Linked DNA regions of Homo sapiens. The protein of the gene in region 3 purifies or fractionates together with the protein of the main gene of each other region. This does not show direct contact. Each region holds a gene or a part of one and is shown on either strand. Other genes may lie near its edges.

The links.
Region 1: the proteins of ANAPC4 (region 3) and FAM91A1 purify together in Homo sapiens (affinity purification with mass spectrometry, with the first as the bait; one large-scale study listed by BioGRID). This does not show direct contact.
Region 2: the proteins of ANAPC4 (region 3) and DEPDC1B purify together in Homo sapiens (affinity purification with mass spectrometry; one large-scale study listed by BioGRID and IntAct). This does not show direct contact.
Region 4: the proteins of ANAPC4 (region 3) and KLHL7 purify together in Homo sapiens (affinity purification with mass spectrometry; one large-scale study listed by BioGRID and IntAct). This does not show direct contact.
Region 5: the proteins of ANAPC4 (region 3) and MXI1 purify together in Homo sapiens (affinity purification with western blotting, with the first as the bait; one study listed by BioGRID). This does not show direct contact.
Region 6: the proteins of ANAPC4 (region 3) and NUP35 purify together in Homo sapiens (affinity purification with mass spectrometry, with the first as the bait; one large-scale study listed by BioGRID). This does not show direct contact.
Region 7: the proteins of ANAPC4 (region 3) and DHCR24 purify together in Homo sapiens (affinity purification with mass spectrometry, with the first as the bait; one large-scale study listed by BioGRID). This does not show direct contact.

The regions. Positions count from the first base shown.
Region 1 is NC_000008.11:123,785,439-123,788,938, forward strand, and holds part of FAM91A1 (protein FAM91A1), read left to right. Parts: intron 1-190; coding exon 191-303; intron 304-1,056; coding exon 1,057-1,172; intron 1,173-1,822; coding exon 1,823-1,935; intron 1,936-2,225; coding exon 2,226-2,312; intron 2,313-2,762; coding exon of another isoform or gene 2,763-2,795; exon of another isoform or gene 2,796-2,809; intron 2,810-3,500. UniProt on the Homo sapiens protein: As component of the WDR11 complex acts together with TBC1D23 to facilitate the golgin-mediated capture of vesicles generated using AP-1.
Region 2 is NC_000005.10:60,602,667-60,606,166, reverse strand, and holds part of DEPDC1B (DEP domain-containing protein 1B), read left to right. Parts: intron 1-310; coding exon 311-477; intron 478-2,599; coding exon 2,600-2,776; intron 2,777-3,500.
Region 3 is NC_000004.12:25,408,263-25,411,762, forward strand, and holds part of ANAPC4 (anaphase-promoting complex subunit 4), read left to right. Parts: intron 1-1,435; coding exon 1,436-1,529; intron 1,530-3,500. UniProt on the Homo sapiens protein: Component of the anaphase promoting complex/cyclosome (APC/C), a cell cycle-regulated E3 ubiquitin ligase that controls progression through mitosis and the G1 phase of the cell cycle.
Region 4 is NC_000007.14:23,164,785-23,168,284, forward strand, and holds part of KLHL7 (kelch-like protein 7), read left to right. Parts: intron 1-913; coding exon 914-1,154; intron 1,155-3,051; coding exon 3,052-3,253; intron 3,254-3,500. UniProt on the Homo sapiens protein: Substrate-specific adapter of a BCR (BTB-CUL3-RBX1) E3 ubiquitin ligase complex. The BCR(KLHL7) complex acts by mediating ubiquitination and subsequent degradation of substrate proteins. Probably mediates 'Lys-48'-linked ubiquitination.
Region 5 is NC_000010.11:110,284,105-110,287,604, reverse strand, and holds the end of MXI1 (max-interacting protein 1), read right to left. Parts: intron 2,782-3,500; coding exon 2,618-2,781; 3' UTR 240-2,617; downstream 1-239. UniProt on the Homo sapiens protein: Transcriptional repressor. MXI1 binds with MAX to form a sequence-specific DNA-binding protein complex which recognizes the core sequence 5'-CAC[GA]TG-3'. MXI1 thus antagonizes MYC transcriptional activity by competing for MAX.
Region 6 is NC_000002.12:183,151,943-183,155,442, reverse strand, and holds part of NUP35 (nucleoporin NUP35), read right to left. Parts: intron 1-3,500. UniProt on the Homo sapiens protein: Functions as a component of the nuclear pore complex (NPC).
Region 7 is NC_000001.11:54,870,196-54,873,695, reverse strand, and holds part of DHCR24 (delta(24)-sterol reductase precursor), read left to right. Parts: intron 1-2,082; coding exon 2,083-2,346; intron 2,347-3,500. UniProt on the Homo sapiens protein: Catalyzes the reduction of the delta-24 double bond of sterol intermediates during cholesterol biosynthesis.

The DNA.
Region 1 (3,500 bases), on a different chromosome or scaffold from region 3:
TTGGAAACATTCCCTCCTATACATTTATGAAGACTTCAAGGGAGGAGCAGGTCTACTGAAAATAGTTTCTGGTTACGGGATGAAAATGTTTGAGAATCACTATTAGTCTATTACACTATTTTTTCTCTACAAATATTGTGATGTCTAGTTTATTTTAAATGGTAATTAGTTTCCTTTATATTCCTTTCAGAATGCTGTTTCAATGTATTGCCGATTGGGCTTTGCCCATAAGAAGGGACAAGTAATTAATTTGGATCAACTTCATTCATCATGGAAGAATGTTCCATCCGTAAACAGATTAAAGTAACTTAAATTTATTCAGTATGAGCTATTAGAGTTTCCTTTTGAAAAGACATTTAATTTTACATACATAAATTTATTTATTTATTTATTTATTGAGACAAAGTCTCTCTCTGTCATCCAGGCTGGAGTGCGGTGGCGCGATCTCGGCTCACTGCAACCTCCACCTCCCCGTTTCAAGCGATTTTCATGCCTCAGCCTCCTGAGTAGTGGGGACTATAGGTGTGCACCACCATGCCCAGCTAATTTTTTGTGTTTCTGTTAGAGGTGGGGTTTCACCATGTTAGCCAGGCTGGTGTCGAACTCCTGGCCCCAACTGATCCACCCACCTTGGCCTTCCAAAGTGTTGGGATTGCAGGTGTGAGCCACTGCACCTGGCCCAGAAATTTTATTTATTCAACCTGTCAGTTGAGGTGAGCCCTTTATATTAGTGATTTTTAATCTTGTGTGTGTGTTACAGATCTTTTTTGGAATATAATGAAAACTAAGAAGGCTTTTCCCAGAAAAAAAGCAAATAAATATTTTACATAAAATCTTGAAGGGTTCTTGAATTTTCTGAAGCCTATCCGTGGATCTTAGTTAAGAACCCTTGTTGTATGTAGGCAGAGCATTTTTGGGCTGCGACTTAATTTTGGGCTTGAATATAAGACTGAATTTTGATGGATTGTTCATAATTTAAGTCTTAACTTCAGTAGATATTTTAATGTAAGGTCATTTATATGATTTTTAAAAAGCAAATGCATTCTTCATTAATAGGAGTACCTTAGATCCACAGAAGATGCTCTTGTCATGGGATGGAGGGGAAAGTAGGAGTCCTGTACAAGAAGCTTCATCGGCAACTGACACTGATACAAATAGTCAAGAAGATCCAGGTTAGCAGTAACTCAGTTTAACATAGAGTCTGTCTGTAGGTACGGCACATGTCCAAACATACACTCTTACAGTTACCTTCTAATTTTAGTTTAGATTTTATTCAATACGCAGTCTTTGAGTGTTTTACTATATTTTGGGCACTGTGCTAAGTCCTAGGTATATAAAACTGACAAGAATATGGTACCTTTCTTCTAAGAATTAAGTCTAAGGAGAGAGAAGGGAATGTGACCAAACAAATTACAACAACACGGGCACCAATTATAATGCTTGTAGGGTGCAAAGAGGAAGAGACCCTTAATTGGCTAGAGAGGTTTGGGAAGCCTTCACAGAGAAGATGTTATTTGAGCTAAGAATGAAGAAGAGCCTGCCAGCTGGTCAGGGAAGGAAAGCCATTTCAGCCCGAGAGAATAGTGAGGCTAAGCCCAAAGGGAAACACAGCATAGTGGACAAGGCCTAGGGTTAAATGCTTTTTAATATTCTTTGCGCTTCAAAATAGGTATGGCTGGAACTTCTTATGGCTATAATAGTGCCTTTTTAAAATTATGTACTTTCTGGTTATCAAATAAAGCTGAAATGAAATACTTTCACTCCAAATGGTAAGCAAAGAATAATTTCCATTTACTTGATTTTAAATTATGGTGTTTTTCAGCTGACACAGCCAGTGTAAGCAGCCTGAGTCTGTCTACAGGACACACGAAGCGCATCGCATTCCTGTTTGACTCCACTCTTACTGCCTTCTTAATGATGGGAAATCTTTCACCAGTAAGCCCAATTCTTGTTTAAATATGAAGGTGTTTAAAATAAATACTAGATATAAAATAATTTAATGCTTTTATATCTTTTTTAAAGTACTACATTTATTCCCGAAGCACAACTGACTTAGAGGAGTATAATAACTTTCAGGGAAGGTCCTTTTGTAATTGGAAGAATTAGCCCCTCACCCCCCAATCCTTAAGTTTAAATATATTTGAAAGGATAATATAAATATTTGATAGTATGCTTAGCATAAAAAGGGAGAAGTAGAACTTTAATATTTTGTTTCTTTTTTTCAGAACTTGAAAAGTCATGCAGTCACAATGTTTGAAGTAGGCAAACTCTCAGATGAGTCTCTGGACAGCTTTCTTATAGAACTAGAAAAGGTAAATGTAGATTGCATGTAAGGGGATGTTAGGGCATTTGGAATCTGTCCTTGCTTGACAGAATGCCAATTATACAGTCTGTTGATTTGGATGGGCTTTCAGTGTATTCTTGCTCGTTCCTACCTCATTCCCCAAATTAGTACTCTTACAGTCATTTAGACTTAAACATATTGAGTGGGTGAATTGATTTTGTGATTTTTAAAGTGATATGTCTACCTCATCTAATTCTTAACATAATTTGAGATAATGAAGAAATGGGGTATAGAAATTTTAGTCTGTAATGTTTTAAGTTGAATTTTTGCTAAAATAGCCTTTCAATTTTTTTTCTGGTATGACTCTCTAAGATCACCTCTTAAGCAGTTTGATTTGAAGTTTTTGTTCCATTTACCTTGAATCTGGAACAATATCCCTGGGTATCATATTTATGTCCGCTCTCACTATCCCTTTTAGCATCTTGAAGACTTCAGCCATATTTGCTCTTAACCACCTTTTTCCCCGTGAGTACAGCCCTAGTTTTCCTTAGCTCTAAATAAATCTGATTGCCCTTTATTGGTGTTTTTCATTCTTCGGATATTTTATTCTGGCCTCTTTGTATTCAAATAGTTTGTGTGCCTAATCTGTTCCTTGACTAATACTTTTCGTGCCTTTTGTGCTTTATGATGAACTTTGTATTTTCAATGCACTGTTTAGAGAATTTGTGGTGATTCTGCAACTCCTTTATATCTTAAAAAAAAAAGACTGTAACATTTTTCACTGCTCCTACTCCATAGGATTTTTACTTTTATTAGTGCAGAAATATGTGTGAGATAATCCTTTGCTATTAATTGGTCTCTTTTACTTTTACCTTTATACTGCCATTTATTTCTTCATGCTTCTTTATTTGTTAACCCCATTTCTTATTGTATATTATCTTCTACTAATAAATTTCTTACTATGTTACTGCACATTTCAAGTTCTGGTTTTCTGATTTTTATCTTTTTTTCACCTCAGCTAGTCTTTTATCAAATGTAGCAAATTGCAAGTTGACTTCTGCTCTTTTACTCATAAATCTATGTTCTTTTTCATCACAAAGTCATTCTTGGGAAAGCCTTTCAGTCTGAGGCTTAGTTTTTAAAGTGGATTCTTAGCTATTTTTTAAGTAGTTTGATCTTAAGATTGATTTCTTAAATGTATGCAAATCTGATTTAG
Region 2 (3,500 bases), on a different chromosome or scaffold from region 3:
TGATAGTGTTAGCCTGGCTGCTCCTGGTTCGGGAAAGAGTGCTATGAAAATTGAGATATATCTGTCTAGTGTATGGGAGGAGAAAATGGCTGTATTTGGTTCTATATATTTGTCATGCCTGGTTGATGGTTTGTATTTTCTATAGTGATTTGTGAGTGACAATGGATCTATATTCAATTGACCCAGTATAGTTGAATATGTGAAAATATTTTATGTAATTTTACTAATATATATTTTGTTAAAATACAACCATATAGAATCTACTAGGCTATAGGTGTTGAAAGATAACATTTTTTTTTTTCTAAATCAGGTTTGTTACAGAAGGAGAAAGTGGCAGTTGAAGCATTTCAGATTTGCTGCCTTCTCCTACCTCCTGAAAATAGGAGAAAGTTACAGCTATTGATGAGGATGATGGCAAGGATTTGCTTAAACAAAGAGATGCCACCCCTGTGTGATGGCTTTGGTACCCGAACACTGGTAGGTTGATTTTTAACATCAGGTATGACTTTTTGGAATGAAAGTCGACTGAGTAAGGTGTATTAGTTTGGGTGATCAGAGGGAAGTACAAAGCAGACTTGCTTAAAAGAGCCACAGTCAGTGTCCACCCAGACTTGTGTCGTGCTTTTGTTCTAAGTGTCTTAAAGAACATAATGAGAAATGGAGACTTGAGTAGGGGCAGACTCTGTAGAGAGATCTGCTACATCCTGTTCTCCCACTTAAAATTATTTTAAATTTATTCTTAATTGACAACTAATAATTGCATATGTGATGTTTTAATTCATGTATACATTATAGAGTCAATCAAGCTAATTAACAGATTCATTACCATACCAACTTATCATTTTTTTGTAATGAGATCATTAAAAATCTATTCTTTTCTCAATTTTGAAATATACAATATATTATTATAATTGTCGTCACCGTGCTGTGCACTAGAGCATTAAGACTTGATCCTCCTGTCTCACTGGATCTTTGTACCCTTTGACCAACATCTATTTCCATGTCCCTGTATCCCCCAGCCTGTGGTACCTACCATCTAATCTCTGCTTCTATTGGCATATGTTTTTAAAGAGAGTTTATTTTAGAATTTACTTACTAGCAAAATCTCTTGATTTTCCTCAAAAAATGTCTTTGAGCAAAACTGGTGCTTCAGTGGAATGTATGTGCTTTCCATATCCTGTTAAAACACCGTGTACTCCCTGGGGATTCACTGGCCCAGTTTTAGAAGTAATAGAGTGAGATCAGAGGAGCACTTAGTGCCCAGTAGGATTCTTGATCTCTATATTTTTTTGGAGTGAGTGGATGGTTAGAGAGGCTAATAGACCTTTTTGAAAAGCTGAAGAAAACTTTATATCTATTCTGCATATAAAATACACATGCAAAACTTTGCATGCAGTTTCAAGGCGATCACAGAGTCCCTGGGGTCCATGGTCTCCAGGCAAAAAATTCTCTGCCTGTGTGTCTCTCTGTACATGTAAATGTAAGTGAAGATCATTTGCAGTGTGTTAATGAAGTGTTACTAAGCAGAATTACATGATTTTTTGCTTAAAGATTTTGAAGGAAGATTGTCAGCGATAAAAGTAGTAGGAAAAAACAAAACAAAACAAAAGCCAGTCCAAAGAACAGTATTAAGAATGGAGTAGTTAGGCTGGGCGTGGTGGCTCACTCCTGTAATCCCAGCACTTTGGGAGGCCGAGGCAGGTGGATCACCTGAGGTCAGGAGTTCTAGACCAGCCTGACCAACATGGTGAAACCCCGTCTCTATTAAAATTACAAAAATTAGCTGGGCATGGTGGCAGGCGCCTGTAATCCCAGCTACTCGGGAGGCTGGGGCAGGAGAATTGCTTGAACCTGGGAGGCGGAGGTTACAGTGAGCCAAGATCACACCATTGCACTCCAGCATAGGTTACAGAGCGAGACTCCGTAAAAAAAAAAAAAAAAAAAAAAAGAATAGTTAATTTCAATTCTATGGAAATTATTACATTGATGCTATAATATATTTTGCATTTCTGCTTGCCTCAAAGAGAGTCTCATCACTTAATGTACTTCTTGAAAAGTCCCATGGCTTTGTTCAAAGATGATTGTCAAATATACATCGAAAATCCTAGAGAAAATAAGCTAACTAGGAAAAGATGTAATGGTTGAGGCATGTGGACTGTGTTAGCGGTTTAAAACAAATCAATAATGAAATTAGGATAAATAATAATTGACTAAATGGCTATAAAGTGCTTTGAACTTAGTAGTGCTACATGATTCAAGTCATGGTGATAATGATTTTCAAAATTTGTTTTCATATATTTATATGTGTGTATGTGTGTGTATATATATATATATATATATGTATATTTAAAATCGTGTAAAAGGAGGTTTAAAAATTGCTCAGATAAGCATCTCTCTGCAGTCTCTTAACAGGAAGATGCACATTTTGTTTGTTCTGGTTGTTGAGACCGTCAACCCATCTGAGATGGCTGGGTACTCTTGGTAGAATATGCACCCTGTGCCTTAGACCATTTCTCATATTTGCCTTTTGCAAATTAGATTGCACTCAGTTCAGAAAAATACTCATCTGCGTTTACCCCCCACCCCGCTCTTTTTTTAGATGGTTCAGACATTTTCCCGTTGCATCTTGTGTTCCAAGGATGAAGTGGACTTGGATGAGTTATTAGCTGCTAGATTGGTAACGTTTCTGATGGACAATTACCAGGAAATTCTGAAAGTCCCTTTGGCCTTGCAGACCTCTATAGAGGAGCGTGTGGCTCATCTACGAAGAGTCCAGGTAAAGGAGAGGATATTATCAGTTCTATGAAATTGGCAATATAAAGTCACGTAAGCTTGCTAGGCTTCTTGGGGCATTTTATTATGAGGATTAAGTGAATTAATGTTTATAAAGTACTTACAACAGGTCTTGGCACATAGTAATCCCCTGCATGTGTTTGTATTATCATTGAAAAGTTTACAGAATGCACATTTGGTTTTGTGTATCAATCCATGTGGCATATTTTTTATTGCTAATTCCTTGAATGAGTTTGTTTAGAATCTACATACACCTACTGATGGAAATGATTTTATGTGCAGTAAGTGTCTTGATTCATAATTGCCCTGTGACCTAGTTTAATATTCCCACTTTTTGCATGAAAAAGCTAAGGCACAAAGAACTTAAATAACTTCGCTTAAGGCCACAGAGCCAGAATTCTGACTGTTGCAGTCAGCCTCTGTAATCAGTGCTCTAAACTATCATTCCATATTGCCTGTCTAAAAATCATAGTACAGTAGAAGAACACTGGCATGAGAGCCATGAATCCCTGGCCAAATTCCTAGCTGTATCCTTTCTGTCGTGTGACTCTGGGCAAGTCCCTTAACCGCTTTGGATTTTACTTTCTTTCCTCAGGCGTTAAAATGGGCTATTCTTTCTTTATAAAGTTGTGAAGATTAGAACACTGTACTTTACAATTCCTAGGATGAATTTCTGACATATGTCAGGTATTCTTTGAAAGGTAGCT
Region 3 (3,500 bases):
AATCTAAAATTGCATCAGTGAACGTTTTTTACATTAAAATTCATTCATCTTCTTGCACTTTGAACGGATCTTTTGTCCACGCATAATTTTGTAACATCCTGCTTTGGTCATTTGGGAAGTATTGGTTCCCTGAGTCATCCAGCTGTTCTAAATGCCGCCACCTTTTATCAAACTATAAGCTAGATTTCATTAATAGCACCACCAATTTAATCAGAAAAGTCTTTGTGTTGTGAAGCACACAGGGGCAGATGCAGGTTTTCCAAAAAAAAAAAAAATTTTTTTTTTTTTGAGACAAGATATTTCCTCTGAGTAGTACAGTGGTGCAATCACAGCTTACTGCAGCCTCCACCTCTCGGACTCGCCTCTTGTAGCTGGGGCTACAAGCACACACCACCATGCCTGGCTAATTTTTGTCTTTATTTTGTGGAGACCTGCCATGTTGCCCAGGCTGGTCTTGAGCTCCTGGGCTCAAGTGATACGCCTGCCATGGCCTCCTAAAGTGCGGGGATTACAGGCATGAACCACCGTGCCCAGCCTATTTTTGCTTTTAACATAAGTGCTTTTCCTCAAGATAACCATCATACTTTGTGTAGCAAAAGTTCCTATGTATAACTCTCAATTCTGTCACACAGAATATTAAAGATTCGTACTCAAGGGTTGAAAATAAAGTTAATAATTTAATGACTTCATTAAAGATAAATGAAACTATGAGTATGTGGCAGAAAAAGAATACAGTGACTGCTGGTATGATTTGGGACTACTACCTTGACTCTTGGCTGAGACACTTACAGCTTTCCCCACCATCAGTACAAATGTTAGCATAGTGTAAAGGGCAGGTGACAGCTACATTATTATAAAACTAGTATTGACTTTGTGGATCCCCAAAAGCATCTTGGGGATTCCCAGGGGCTTGTGGATCTCACTTGAAGAACAACTGCCATAGAGTATATTGACAGTACATTGACAATGGATACTTATGAAACTAATTTATAACTTGCATATGTTAAATTAAAATATGCTCATGAAAAAGAAACACAATTTAAGTTCGATTTGTGATCTCTACATCTACAACATAATAATCTTTTAATACTTTGTGGTTTGTTTAGTTGCTTGACTAAACAAACTACCAACTGTTCAGCAGTTTCTTTAATTTTTAAGATAGTAGCTAGCTAACATTTATGGAGGGCTTAATTCTGCCACATACACATAGCAGATTTTGGCTACCTCACTTAGAATGATAGTAATGCACTTTCAGAGGACTTGGCAATAAAACAAAGTAACTTATTAAGTTAAAAAAGTGTTAAAAATAAACCGATTTTAGGCCCTAAGTCTTTGATTTACTAAACTTAACTTTTTTTTGTCTTTTACTTTTTTTCTTTTTCCATTTTCCCTTCCAGGTATGAATAAACTTAAATTTCTAATTCTGTATTTCTAGTACTTGAAAGATGAAGATGATGATCTTGTGTCACCCCCTAACACAGAAGGAAACCAGTGGTATGACTTTCTTCAAAATAGCAGCCACCTTAAAGGTACTTCATGAACCAACCAGATTTTGGCCATTTTTGTTTTTATTTAAGACTAGGTCTTGAATAGTTCTGCTAACAGTTTTGCTGAAAACTTGCTGAACACTTACCTAAGTTTATTAGACTTATATTTATTTGATTATAGGAACAGCAAAATAACCAATAGTGTATGACATCACCATGATAGATAGAAGACACTCTGAAGTTAACTACGCTGTAGGAAGATTGCTTATTCCTAAGTGTTCTCATATAAGTGTTTTGCACCCTGTAAAAAATAGGATTTTGAGGGAAACTATAGAGCCAAATAGTGAGAAAAGTCTTTTTTGCCAATTCCAATTTATTATCTTCTGAAAGCACAGGGATGCTCAACTGTATTCTCCTCGGGTTGTAGTTGGTGTGTGTGTGTGTGCATGTGTACTTGTTATACCTTTCATTTTCTAGAATGTCAGAATGTTAATACCGTAAAGCTATCCAGCATTATTAGGGATGCAGCACATAATAGCAACCATTAAATATGCCAGCACATCTTACCATTTTAGATGAAAATATTTTAAAGCTCGTATTTCTTTGATGTCTGAAAGAATAATCTGACCAGATTTAGCAATTGCTTAGATCTTTAAGGTAGTGGGTGCTTAGTCTAACTAAACATTTATGGGGTGCTTAGTCTGCCATATACACACAATACCTGCTTTAATCCTCACAAGATTCTATGGGTAGGTACTTGGTATCACCATTTACTAATGAGGAAACAGAAGGTTAGAGAAGCCCAGGATCACACAAGCTGGTTAGTGATGGAGCTAGGATTCTGTTAATGTGAAAGCCTGAGGTTTTAACTAGACTGGCAGTACAGGTTGAGCATCTTAATCCAAAAATCTGAAATCTTAAAATGCTCCAAAATCTAAAACTTTTTGAGCACCGACATGACACCACTAGTGGAAAATTCCATACCTGACCTCATATGATGGGTCCCAGTCAAAATGCAGTCAAGACTTTGTTTCAAGCACAAAATTATTAAATATATTGTATAAGATGTACATGAAGCATAAATGAATTTCGTGTTTAGACTTGAGTTCCATCCCCAAGATATCTCATTATGTATATGCACATATTCCAAATTCCAAAAAAATCCCAAACACTTACAGACCCAAGCATTTTGGGTAAGTGAAACTCAACCTATAGCAATTTCTGCCACTTGTATTTGGTTGCTGCTTCTGTGAATGAATGAATGAATGAATGAATGAATGAGGGAGAGAATTCTTTGATGCCAAGAACTTTGCATATAGTCCAAATTCTTTTTCAAGGCAGAACCTATTATGTATTGCCAGAGAGTCTTGAGGTCAGTAAGGAGATGCATTGGTGCAAGTTGGCTATTGAATGGAGGGAGGATAAAGGTACAGGAGACGCTACTTATTTACTGTATTTAATCAGGATGCCCAGGGAATAAGGCAGGATGTCTGGAGAGGGTCAGTGGCAGTGCGTCAAGAGTAGTGGCACCTGGACCCTGTTGCTATTTTGGCTATTATTGATCCAGGGAACTTTGCCAGGCTAAAAATAGGTCCTGTCCTCTTTTATTTGCCCCACATCTTACGTGTTTGAATAAGAAAGGCCTGATCTTAGCTACAGACCTAATGGAACTCACTATTGAGTTCCATAATGAATTCTAGTGAGGAAATATCAGTGAAACTGTTTTCTTACACTGCAAAAATCAAGTGCTAAATACTTGATCTGTGTACTTTCTTTAGGGTACATGGGTCAGTATTGTGTGGTGGGTAAAAGTTGGTGCTCTGAAAGCTGGATTTTCTGGGTTGGAAGCTGCTCTACTACTTCGTAGTAACACGGCTGAGAGCAAGTTGCCTAACCTCTCTGTGCCATAGTTTCTCATCTGTAAAATGAAGATGGTAATAATGCTGCCCTCAAAAAACTGGTGTGGAGATTAAATAAATTAATCTACATAAGCACTTAGACTAATGCCTGGCA
Region 4 (3,500 bases), on a different chromosome or scaffold from region 3:
GGTTATCAGTCAGATTTTCTCGAAGGAAACTCAATAATCACACATAGTGCTTTCCTTGGTGAGATTGGGAATGGTATGAATTCCTATCTGACCCTGATTATTTTCAGAAAATAGCAGGAACGCTGTAGCTTCCTATCTCAAAAAAAGAGAGGGTCCAAGATACTATAACTTTAGGGGCATCCCCCCATGCACATACATGGAAGGGCGGCACAAGCATTCTTCGATGCTATCAAACATAGTGAAGAAACAGATGCTGTGAACAGCCCTTACTGTCAAGTACTGATAGGTGTGTATTTCTAATCATTGGGGTGAAAAGTGAGTATCCAGAGTACTTAGAAGAGATTACTCAAGTATTTCCTTATAAACATCAACAGTTTTAAAGTCCAGCTGACTACATTGGCTCAACTCAATATAGAAAATTAATAAAGAAGTCCACAAAATACCTTCTGGCTTTAGACTATCAGTAGGATAATGGCAATTTGAGCTTCATATTATCCATTGATTACTTATATCACACTATATATCTGGCAGGGAAGGGATGGAGACCTTTACATTTGAAAAAGCTTTTTTAAAAAATAAAACAACTTATTTTAGAATCTTCTTGTATTGTCTTCAATAACAGAAGGAATAGAAGACAGGGTGGTGATGGTATATCCAAATATATTTAAGTTTATTTTAGAGCCAGAAAGGACCCAAAGCAGTCATGTGCCTGCCTTTTGCCCTCCGCCCCATCTAATCAACATTCTGCAGAAACCACACAAGATTAAATTGGTAATAGTCTCAAGCCAAACATTTGTATGTGTAGTCTAATAAATTAACATATTCTTATATGTTTTTTGACTGTATCTTTGCATTGTCCTTTTCAGTTATATTTTTTTCCTTACTGAAAGCTTCCCATCCTTTTCTGCTACAGGATTATAGCTGGACAGACATCCGCTGCCCCTTTGAAAAACGAAGAGATGCAGCATGCGTGTTTTGGGACAATGTAGTATACATTTTGGGAGGCTCTCAGCTTTTCCCAATAAAGCGAATGGACTGCTATAATGTAGTGAAGGATAGCTGGTATTCGAAACTGGGTCCTCCGACACCTCGAGACAGCCTTGCTGCATGTGCTGCAGAAGGCAAAATTTATACATCTGGAGGTTCAGAAGTAGGTAAGGACTTCTTAAGTATTTTGGTTTGGGGCATATGCTTTAAAGCCAAGTATCTTGGCTTTCATATTTAAATAAACAGCTGGTATTATTTGTCCAGATACTTTCTTGGTAATTTAAATATGTGTTTGTCACATTTTAGAGCTCATCTCCCTGAAGGTTTATGTCGTTGCTTTACAAACCATTAAATTACAGAACTTTAGCTTCCTAGATTAATGGCCCATTTTTTTTATCATAATGAAGCATTAGTTGACATTATCTGAATTATAGTTCTAAATTATTTGGGCTGCATAATATTATTTGTTTTAAAGATTTCAGAGTTCAACTTATAGACTCTTTAAGAACTCGTTACTATATTCAGGCTTTTAAAATTTGTATTATATTTGCTTTCTTTTTATTAGAAAAAAGAATGCTCTTTTTCATTTGTTTTATTCTTTAAGTTTTTAATGACTGTAGTGGTATTTATGCTTATTGAGCAGAATGGGATGTGGGTGTGGATATAAAAACCTTATTGGATAGTGTGTTAGTGTCCAGTAGTGCTCTTTTTCTAAATGAATAATTTTTCTAAATGAATAGGTGCAGGCTAGATACATAATAGCTTTTGTATGCTTTCATTTTCAAGTAATTTCTTTAGCTTAAATAATGGGCTAATAAAGAAAACTAGGGAGACCGTAAATGGTTATACTTTTGGTCTGCATACTTATGTTTTTACCCTCAACTATATGTCAAATGAATACAAGAAAAATCACTATTTCCTAAATGTAACCATTTCCTCTCTTTAAAAGCATTCTTCACAGACTGTTATAATGTAGAATATTTCAAATACAATAAATCCTAAAGATGATAGACGGTAACTGTTCTGTGGTACTGCAGATAACTTCATTTCTTCAGCCTTTGCTAAGTGTGTTTTTAGCTTAAGTAGTAGTTTTTTTTTAATCTACTATATACTATATATTTTCCTATAGTGTCCACCCACTGAACCTACCAAATCAGGAATGTTTAAAAAGTTAAAAATAAGTTATTTTTGGTCATGACCATTGCTTCTTCTAGTTGTTATTTTCTGATCTTTACTTTTCACAGACCTTAGTTGCAACGCAGAATTATAAAGGTGTTGTCGTTTTTAAATCATTTGATATTAGCCCAGAATGGTGGGAGATGAGAAATAGTTTGGTAACTTCTAAAATTTTTTGTCCTTGGGAAGGAAAAAAAAAAGCACTTAAACTTTAATAGTATCATTTCTAAAATTTTTTATTGAACTCCTACAGTGTGTAGAAGTTTCAAAACATGATGAATGTATGTTTTGCCTTTAAATTGTGTAATCAAAATACATCAGAAATATACATCAATATTTTGAGAATATACTCAAGCAGGGACCAGTGTGATTTCAGGATATACCACACTAACTGAGAATAGTTAGGAAATATAATTTTGTTAATGGTGCTGTAGCTATTCCAGAATATTAAATAAGAATATGATCAGATAGTAGTTTTCATATTTTAAGGTATGGGTCTACCATCTGTAAGGAACTATTATGCTTTTCCACTTTATATAAACATTTGAAGTATGGATAATTCCCGTCATGCATAATGGGGCTTGAAGACATATATAAGGCTTCTTATTTAATTTTTCTTTTGAAATCAAATTTATTTTTCTAAAGTTTAATTACCAATAAATAAGTATTTCCAACAGATCCTTTTAAGGATGTTTTCCAGGGTCTATACAAACAGGATTATTAGCGTTTTCTTAAACTATTCCTACACTTTGTTGTTGTTGATTGAGTATGAAAATGGCCGTATGACCCTAAATTCTTCCTTCCTTAACTAATAAGATCTACAGTCAGTTCTTTCCAAACCCCCGCACACACTAAAGTTAAGCATGATGGGGCCTTTTTCTTTTACAGGAAACTCAGCTCTGTATTTATTTGAGTGCTATGATACGAGAACTGAAAGCTGGCACACAAAGCCCAGCATGCTGACCCAGCGCTGCAGCCATGGGATGGTGGAAGCCAATGGCCTAATCTATGTTTGTGGTGGAAGTTTAGGAAACAATGTTTCTGGGAGAGTGCTTAATTCCTGTGAAGTTTATGATCCTGCCACAGAAACGTATGTATCTATTTAAAATTTATTTTACAGTTAACTGTATTCTATAAGCTCTGTAGGAGATGTCAAAAGACCAGAGGAACCCAACAGAAGAATTTTGTCCTTGAGTGAAGAGTGTATATAAACTTTTGAGTGTGCTAGGGTCAGTGGCATATTTATGACCTGGACCTTTCCCTTACACCAGAAATGGCTTGAACTTACACCCCATGGGAACCTCTTTCTTTCTGGTTCTGCGTGCAATAAATGCCTA
Region 5 (3,500 bases), on a different chromosome or scaffold from region 3:
TAATATTATTATTAATGTGGCACATTAAACCACATGCAGTTAGGTTATATGGAGTTACCAGTCAGGCTCCTGTTTAAATTGCAGAACAGGAATGGCAATTATAATTCAAACTGCCATTTGATTTGGCATTGATACTGATTTGGTATCAACAGACATTTAGGAGATAGTTACCTCTTAAGGTGTGGATACCCATTCATGTTTTTGCCTTCATAAAGAAGGATGGTACAAAAAGAAAGGTATTCTTCGTTCACAGTTTTTATTTCTTCCAATTAACTTTTGTGTCTTCAAAGTTGATTTGTCTTTTAAAAAATTAATACTTCTTACTCATACAATCTACACCACCCCAAGGAAAACAAACCCAGGGAAGGGTAATTTAGGGGGCAGTTAAAATGTGCACTATAGGTTTATAACAAATGCTTTCCAGCCCATAATCCTGTACATATGCAACAAAATGGCACCTCAAGTTCATCTGAATGAAGGCCCAAATAATGCAAGCGAAGGCCATGAGAATAACAAAACAAACAGAAGCTTAGTCACTGGCTTCATTCACTTTGTATGGTAGCACAGTCTTCAAACTGTCTCACACTTGATCAAGAGTAAGCAAACACAGAGACAACATCTTGACTCAGCCATTAGTAATTATAAGTGAAACCAGAAATAATTTACCTGGGCCACAAAAAGGAATTGTTTTGTCCTGTTTTTCATTAAGTCCCTAGCACCTGAAACGTAGCAAGTTCTGATACTGGGCTTCTAAAGGCATGCAGTTTTTCACTCACATCTACTTCAAAGAATTTCTTCCACTGAAACATAGCACAATCAAGGAAAAACTTCTTCTGGAGGCAAAGGAAGAGCACAAGTATATGTTGAGGCGTAATGTATGACCAAGATGGTACACTATATATAGAAGCAGTGAATGCTGTTAAAGTGTCACTCACAAAGGGATAGTCTAACATTAACACACAACTCAACTGCACTGCTAAATATGGTTGTCTTTATTTTCTTTTTCCTTGCCCAGCCCTATCTAAACATAAAATAAAACTACAGGACTGAAATTAACAATCCATTAAAATCAGCAATAAGTTATGAAAATCATAAAGCTTTTTTTTTTTTTTAAGTAATTAAGGGTAGTTAAATTATTTAAAGTATACAAAGTCCAAACAGCCAGGGGTAAGGTCTCCAAGAGGCCTTCCCAGGGTAAGGGAGAGGGCCACAAGGGAACCTTGGAGTTTGAAAGACAAAGGGAACACATGACATCAAAGTGCAGGCTAGAAATTTCACTTAGAAGAAAATAACATTACTGAAAATATTCGTAAGAGTAACAATAGCACCTGCACAGTGGGACTGTGAGGAAGAGAGAGACTGCCTGTAGGAAAATGGAAGCAAATCTTTACATTAAAATGAGACAAGTGCTGAACTTACTATGTTAACTATGATAGTGTGTCTACTATAGATATCAGATGGTTAAAAGCTGGTAAAAGGTAATGATTCTAAAAACAAAAATAGCATTGACCCTTTTTCTACCTAGCCCAGACCTCATTCATTTTGTGCACTATAAAGAGTGAGGTGTGAGGTGTTTTATCATTATCAAATGCTGCATCAAAATAGATGATTTTTTTCCCCATGTGTTTTTCCACTATAAAAGACATCTATTTTTTTTTATGGATAAGCTTTAAAAAGATGTCATTTTGGTTTTCAACACATATAAACAGTTATCAAAATCTGAAATAAAAATGCTGCTGTGGCTCAGACCTTGGCCTGCTAATCTGCGTGCACAACTCTTCTGACCCACGCAGACAAAGAGGCACATGGAGCTTTTTCCTTTTGGCCCCCCCAATCCATACTCATAGGCCTTGTAGGATAGAGGCTGTCATGCATGGACTGCTCCCATGTGGCCTAAGGGCAGCAGGATGGAGAGGTGGCAGCTGGGTGCCTAGTGCTAACAATGCAGGATAAGGTTAGCTTGCTTAGCATGGAATCCAACAGAAAGTTGAGCTGCATGATGATCCCTTTCAAAAGGCTTCATGGGAGTCTCTCCTTTTGCAGAGCATGAAATGAGCTTTTTTCAAAAAAAAAAAATAATAATAAAGGATTGATCATCCACAGGCTTCATGATAAACTGTCCCAGGCTGAGTTTTAATAGCTCATTATTAGCTATCCAAGATTAATACCTGATTTTCTTGTCTTTTCATTCGAATAGTTTTTATTTTGCTTTTAGGACCATAAAGCTCAGGAAGGGTTCATAACCCCATCCTTAAATGTGTCTACTCAATGTAGTATGAGCAAACTAGAAAAGAGAAAGAGGATGGCATCTCCAATGTCCTCTTCTCAATCAACTCAAATCAAGAAAATTTCACACAAGTTTTCTGCTGCCATTAAAAATTGTGATTTTTCCAATATGAATATTCTGAATATTTGTTCTCCTTGGGAGGCTCTGCCCCACTTTTTGCTAAGTATTTGCTTAAATACAGGTCCTCTGACCCTTTTGTTCAAGTATAGTTTTGTTTTGTTTTGTTTTGTTTTAAAGAGGAGACTGCATCATGAACCCAATTTAAGAGATTGTTTGTATTGAATTGGCCCAGTGAATATTTTGCCCTGCACTGTTATGTCATGCTGGGTTCTATGAAGTGAATGAAAGTTTGACACTGGCACTGGAGTAACCCTCGTCACTCCCAATACTCGGCAGGCTGCTGTGGTCATCAATGTCACTGATGCTGGTGGTACTTATATTGTCCACTTCTCCATGGGAGAACTCTGTGCTTTCAACATCCACTTCAATCTCCTCTGCCAAAGGAAAAAAAAAAAAGAAGAACATTAATTATCGAGTATAGCGCACCTTCAAAAACTAACAGCATGAGGAAAAGAGGTATAAGAAATGTTACACAACAAGCTTATTATCAGTGATGTCTGGAGAACAGAGGAACAAGGTGAAGAGACAGGAATATTTTTTGCCAAGGGGAATGTCTGATATACAGTGGTGGTCTTAATTTAGGCAGCAAATTTCCTAAATCCTTTGACGCCAGTCCGTCTGGACCTCCCTAAAGCACTTGGCGTATTTGGGAATTAGTGCTTAATATTAAAAGGTCCCAACCCCCAAGTGGTTTAAAAACATCTGTTTTGCATTAAACCACAAACTAATTCTCAGTTCTGTTTATTAATCAGGGTTGCCTTAAAGGGTGGGCAGGAGCATAAACTTAATATAGGCAAACTAGAAAATTTACCCATCCAAGCCTTTGGTGGTGCCATTCTACAGATAGTTCAACAGACTTCTAGGATTCATCATAAAGATCTTCAACTAGTCAGTCAAACAAGTCATTATAAAGTAGAGTTTGAGGTATATGTCTTAGATTTAATTTTCTTGCATCAAATATAGCTTGAAATAAGGGCCTGAGACTTAAAAGTCTTCAGATTATAGTGAGATCCATTTTGGTGGTAGTATACAGACTTAAAAGCCAAACATTAAAAAAAAAAAACACCACAAATACATATTTGACTCAGCTATC
Region 6 (3,500 bases), on a different chromosome or scaffold from region 3:
CCAAATAGAAATCAATAACACATAAAATCTCTCTGGAAACATACACAAAAAACAGATGGCAATCACTGCCTTAAAGAGGAGGAAAACTAGCTTGGGACAAAAGCAAAAGGGAAAACTTCATTGTACATTCTTACATACCTTTTGAATTTTTAATTTTAAATAAATTGAATACATAAAATCCACTAAACATTTACTATGCACCTTTCTTCCTTCAAGGAGCTCATGTGTTATTTTTATGTTTTTTAATCCCAAAAAATATATAATAGATACATTCCAGTATCAGCATGTGATACAGTTCAGCTGTGTCTCCAACCAAATCTCAACTTGAATGGTATCTCCCAGAATTCCCATGTGTTGTGAGAGGGACCTGAGAGAGGTAATTGAATCATGGTGGCTGGTCTTTCCTATGCTATTCTCATGATAGTGAGTAAGTCTCACAAGATCTGACGCGTTTATCAGGGGCTTCCGCTTTTGCTTCCTCATTTTCTCTTGATGTCACTATGTAAGTACCTTTTGCCTCCCGCCATGATTCTGAGGCCTCCCCAGCCATGTGGAACTGTAAGTCCAATTAAACCTCTTTTTCTTCCCTGTCTCAGGTATGTCTTTATCAGCAGCATGAAAATGGACTAATACAGTAATTGGTATCAGTAGAGTGGGGCATTGCTGAAAAGATACCCAAAAATGTGGAAGTGACATTGGAACTGGCTAATAGGCAGAGGTTGGAACAGTTTGGAAAGCTCAGAAGAAAATGTGGGAAGTTTGGAACCTCCCAGAGACTTGTTGAATGGCTTTGACAAAAATGCTGATAGTGATATGAACAATAAGTTCCAAGCTGAGGTGGTCTCAGATGGAGATGAGGAACTTGTTGGCGACTGGAGCAAAGGTGACTCTTGTTATGTTTTAGCAAAGAGACTGGTGGCATTTTGCCCCACCCTAGAGATTTGTGGAACTTTGAACTTGAAAGAGATGATTTAAGGTATCTGGTGGAAGAAATTTCTAAGCAGCAAAGCATTCAAAAGGTGACTTGAGTGCTATTAAAAGCCTTCCATTTTAAAGGGGAAACACAGCATAAAAGTTCAGAAAATTTGCAGCCTGACAACGCAGTAGAAAAGGAAAACTCATTTTCTGAGGAGAAATTCAAGCTAGCTGCAGAAATTTGCATAGCTAGAAAGGAGCCTAATGTTAATGCCCAAGAGCATGGGGAAAATGTCTCTAGGGCATGTCAGAGCCCTTCAAGACAGCCAATCCCATCATAGGCCTGGAGGCCCAGGAGGAAAAAGCGGTTTTGTGGTCCAGGCCCAGGGTCCCTGTGCTGTGTGCAGCCTAGGGACTTGGTGCCCTGTATCCCAGCCCCTGCAGCCGTGGCTGAAAGGGGACAATGTAGAGCCTGGGCTGTGGCTTCAGAGAGTGGAAGCCCCAAGCCTTGGCAGCTTCCACATGGTATTGAGCCTGTGGGTGCACAGAAGTCAAGAATTGAGGTTTGGGAACCTTCACCTAGATTTCAGAAGATGTATGGAAATACCTGGATGCCCAGGCAAAATTGTGCTGCAGGGGTGGGGCCCTCATGGAGAACCTCCGCTAGGGCAGTGCGGAAGGGAACTGTGGGGTCAAAGCTCCCACACAGGGTCCCTACTAGGGCACTGCCTAGTGGGGCTGTGAGAAGAGGGCCACCATCCTCCAGTCCCCAGAATGGTAGATCCACTGACAGCTTGCACTCTGTGCCTGGAAAACCCATACACGCAATGCCAGCACGGGAAAACAGCCAGGAGGGAGGCTGTACCCTGCAAAGCCACAGGGGTGGAGCTGCCCAAGACCATGGGAACCCACCTCTTGCATCAGCGTGACCTGGATGTGAGACCAGGAAGTCAAAGGAGATCATTTTGGAGCTTTAAAATTTGACTGCCCCTCTGGATTTTGAACTTGCATGGGGCCTATAACCCCTCTGTTTTGGCCAATTTCTCCCATTTGGAATGGCTGTATTTACCCAATTCCTATAACCCCACTGTATCCAGGAAATAACTATCTTGCTTTTGATTTTACAGGCTCATAGGTGGAAGGGACTTGCCTTAACTCAGATGAGACTTGGGACTGTGGACTTTTGGGTTAATGCTGAAATAAGACTTTCAGGGGTGTGTTGGGAAACCATGATTGGTTTTGAAACGTGAGGACATGAGATTTAGAGGGGCCAAGGATGAAATGAAATGGTTTGGCTGTGTCTCCACCCACATCTCAACTCAAATTATATCTCCCGGAATTCCCATGTGTTGTGGGAGGAACCCAGGGAGAGGTAATTGATTCATGGGGGCCAGTCTTTCCTGTGCTATTCTCATGATAATGAATAAGTCTCACGAGATCTGATGGGTTTATCAGGGGCTTCCGCTTTTGCTTCTTCCTCATTTTCTCTTGACACCGTCATGTAAGAAGTGCCTTTCACCTCCCACCATGATTCTGAGGCCTGTCCAGCCATGGAACCCTAAGTCCAATTAAACCTCTTTTTCTTTCCAGTCTCGGATATGTCTTTATCAGTATGAATAGGGACTAATACAGTATGGCAAATCATACTTTCAGAAACAAACTTTATATTTTTGTAGAGTGTAAATATCAGCTTGAATATCAAAAGACCCAAGTTTTTGCTGGAGCTTTGCTAATAATAACTAGATGTGAACGGCTGAATAAATCACTTAATCTGCCTACACCTCAGTTTCCTCACCTGTAAAATAAAACATTATACAATATGATCTCTAAGGAGTTTTACTGTGATAGATATATATACATACAAAATGGAATACTCAGCAGTAAAAAGGAATTAATTAATGGCATTTGCAGCAACCTGAATGGGACTGCAAATTATTCTAAGTAAAGTAACTCACTTATTCTAAGTGAAGTAACTTAGGAATGGAAAACCAAACATCATATGTTCTCACTCATAAGTGGGAGCTAAGCTATGATGATGCAAAAGCATAAGAATGATGCAATGGACTTTGGGGACTCGGGGGAAAGGGTGGGAAAGGGGTGACGGATAAAGACTACAAATTGGGTTCAGTGCCTACTGCTCAGGAGATGGGTGCCCCAAAGTCTCACGAATCATGTAAAGAACTTACTCATGTAACCAAATACCACCTGTTCCCCAAAAACCTATGGAAATAAAAAAGCATTTTTTTTAAAAAAAGGCATTTTAAAGTTTTTTTTGGACCTAAAAATCTATTCAAAAATGTAACAAGGACTGTCATACTGTTTCTATTAATATTCAATACTTTGTGGACCAGAAAGTATCAACCCTGTGACATTGTGTGTGTGTGTGTGTGTGTGTGTGTGTGTGTGTGTGTGTGTGTTTGTAAATGTTCATTCTGTTAATTCAAAACTGGTGAATTCCACTAGATGTAGAGAACCAGTCACTAGAAAAAGGGGAAGGAGTTCCCTAAGTCTAAAGGGACAACTGTGTTCCATCTAGTAAATATGCTTGAGAGAAAATAATTTGGGAAGAAATAAACAGACAAATG
Region 7 (3,500 bases), on a different chromosome or scaffold from region 3:
CCTGGGTGACAGAGCAAGACCCTGTCTCAAAGAAAAAAGGTCAAGACATAAACGCATGTTAGTTTAGGCCTACACAGAGTCAAGATTATCAATAACGCTTCCACTTCCGCATCTTGTCCCACTGGAAAGTCTTCAGGGGCAATAACACACATGGAGCTGTCATCTCTGACAACAATGCCTTCTTCTGGAATACCTCCTGAAGGACCTGCCTGATGCTGTTTACAGTTAACTTTTTTTTAATAAGCAGAAAGAGTACACTCTAAAATAACAATTAAAAGTGTAGTGTAGTGAATACATAAACCAATGACAGAGTCATTTATCATTATCAAGTATTATGTAGTGTACATAATTATATGTGCTATACTTTTATACAACTGGCAGTACAGTAGGTTTGCTTACACCAGTGTTACCATAAACACATGAGTATGACATTAGGATAGCTGTGATAGCAGTGATACCACTAGGCAACAGGACTTTTTCAGCTCCATTATAATCTTATGAGACCACCATTTTATCTGTGGCCCATTGTTGACTGCAACGTCTTTATGTAGCACGTAATCGTGTAAGTAAAAGTGATTAGAGAGGATGTTTTAGAAAAATAAGAAACACTTCTACCACCCAAACTGGGATTCAAACATTTAAAGCGTTTTACCTAAGGGGTGGGATAGGAGTGACACTTTAAATAACCTTGGATCTGTCCTGGCAGGTGTGAGGGACCCCTGGGATGGGAGGGACAGTTGGTCCTGTTGAAGTGGGTATTTCAGGGAGCCACCCGACTCCTTCACTTCACAGAAGAGGGCCCAAGGAAAGACTCCCAGCTTGGCAGCACTGGTCTTGGATGAGAGATACCCCTAGCAAGATTCACATCAATTCATCCTGCTTTCCTGAACGCTTGCGGGGCCCTGTCTTTTGACCTATTTATTATCGGCAGAGAAAGGAGACTGACATTTGTGAATTCTTTCCCTTCTCTGAGGCCCAGGTTCCTCACTGACAAATATGTGGTTGAGAGGAATAAGTAGGTCCTGTATGGGAAGCTCCTTGCATAGAGCTCAGCATGCAGCAAGTGTGTCATCTTCACTGCCATGGCCAGGAGAATGTGATTAGCTGTGGGCCCAAGGGGGAATTGGTGAGCGTAGTGCTGCTGTTCCTGAGGTTTCTGCCAGCCTGCTGCAGAGCCTCCTTGCTCCAGCTCTCCTGCCCTGCTGCATTCACTGTGCCCACCACCAAGAGCATTCAGGTTTTGTGGAGACTGCACAGGGCTGTCCTCTTAGTAAAGGCAAGACATGGCTGGACTTTTTCAAAAGAGCTTTCTTTACTAGAACTGAAGAATCCCAATCAGAATGGCCAAGGAAAAGTCAGTTGTCTGTGTCCAAGACAAATGTCAAAACAATAAAATGATGAGGTTGGACATTGATTTATGGAAGCAGATGAGGTGTTGTAGGAAAAACGCTGGCCGGGGAGTTAGGTGGTCTTGCCTGAGCCCTGGCATTGCTGCAGCTGACTTTTCTGGGAAGACTTTGGTGAGTCATGGCAGCTCTGAGAGACTCAGTTTCTTTACTTGTCATAAGGGGGTGCTAGCGCTCTCCCTGGGCTCTGTCGGGGGTGGATCCCACAAGCCGATGGACTGGGAAAGGCCTTGTAAATTTTAGTAATGGTTCAGAAGGGAGGCATTTTAATGTTCCCCAGCTACACTGCCTGACACCCACTAAAGGGTGTCAAGGCCTGGCCTTGGACTCCTGCCCTTGTGCAATGCCCCTGCCATTGTGGGTCGTTGGGCAGCAGTGCCAGTCCCAGCTTTTTCCTGAATAGCCTCTGGGTCAGGGGCTGTACCTAGATGGGAGAAGGAGGATGCTCTCTCAGTGAGGGTCCCTGAGACAGAGGGCAGTATTAGGTTCCATGTCATGTCGAAGCTGCAGGGAGGAAACTAAAGCCCAGCAAGCACAGTTTGTAAAGCTCATTGTTTGGGTTTATACAAGAGAGTGAGAGAATAGGGACTCTCCCAGGCTTTGCTCCCCCACTGACTGCATGCCACAATGTGGGGCCCAAGGTTTCAGCTCACAACACATCAATTCTGTCTCACAGTCCGAAAACTCAGACCTGTTCTATGCCGTACCCTGGTCCTGTGGGACGCTGGGTTTCCTGGTGGCCGCTGAGATCCGCATCATCCCTGCCAAGAAGTACGTCAAGCTGCGTTTCGAGCCAGTGCGGGGCCTGGAGGCTATCTGTGCCAAGTTCACCCACGAGTCCCAGCGGCAGGAGAACCACTTCGTGGAAGGGCTGCTCTACTCCCTGGATGAGGCTGTCATTATGACAGGGGTCATGACAGATGAGGCAGAGCCCAGCAAGGTAAGCCAGGGTGTCAGCTGCTGCTGACCAAGACTGGGGAGGCATGAGTGTGCTAGGACTGAGCCGGTTCCCGTATCCTGACCCTGGCAGCCACCTCTTCAAGGCTGCTGCCTGGGTCAACCCACCTGGGGTACAGGCAACAGGATCTATCATCAGAAATGTATTAGACAGTGATGGAAGCTTTCATCTACTCTGCCCCTACCACCTGCCTGGGATGTGCTTGTCTCTTAGTGGATGTAATCTTTGGTCCTTATAGCAAACCCATTTTATAGATGAGGAAACTGAGTCTTCAAGAGGTAATGTAGGCTGGGCACAGTGGCTCACACCTGTAATCCCAACACTTAAAAGAGGTAATGTAAACTTCCACAAGATTCGAGTAATCGATTTGATGCCTTGGAATCTAGATTGACATTCCTTCCACATATACCATGCAATTTTTATTAGCAGTTTTTTCTCCATTTAGAAAGGATTTGTGCTTATTGTAAGAGACTTGGAAAGGATTTGTGCTTATTGTAAGAGACTTGGAAGGTACAAACAAGTAAAAAGGAAAGAAAAGACTCCACCTGTAAATATGTCCCAAAGCCAGTGTTGCTAATGTGTTTGGTACACAGTTGGCCCCTTGTATCTGTGGGTTCCACAACAGTGGATTCAACCAACTGCAGATTGAAAGCGTTCAGGGGCCAAAAAACGGATGGTTTCATCTGAAATGAACATGGACAGACTTTTTTTCTTGTCATTATTCCTTAACTGTTACATAGCATTTACATTGTATTAAGTATTGTGAGAAATCTAGAGATGATTTAAAGTATACAGGAGGATGTGCATAGGGTTATATGCAAATACTAAATCATTTTATGTAAGGGACTTGAGCATTCATGGATTTTGGGGGATCCTGGAACAAATCCCCCATGGATACTGAGAGACAACTGTATTTATTTCCTCTTTCTCTGTATGGATTTTTTTGAAAGTTTTTAAATTATAAAAGTAATGTAACAATGCTGAAATATATAAAGAAAAAGTTAAAGTGCATCTCTTTACGCCAGGGTGTAACCACTTACGTATAACAGTTTTGTGTGCATTCTTCGAGACCTATTTATTTTTATTTATTTATTTTCTTATTGTTTTTTTTTTTGAGACAGGGTCTCTGTAGCCCA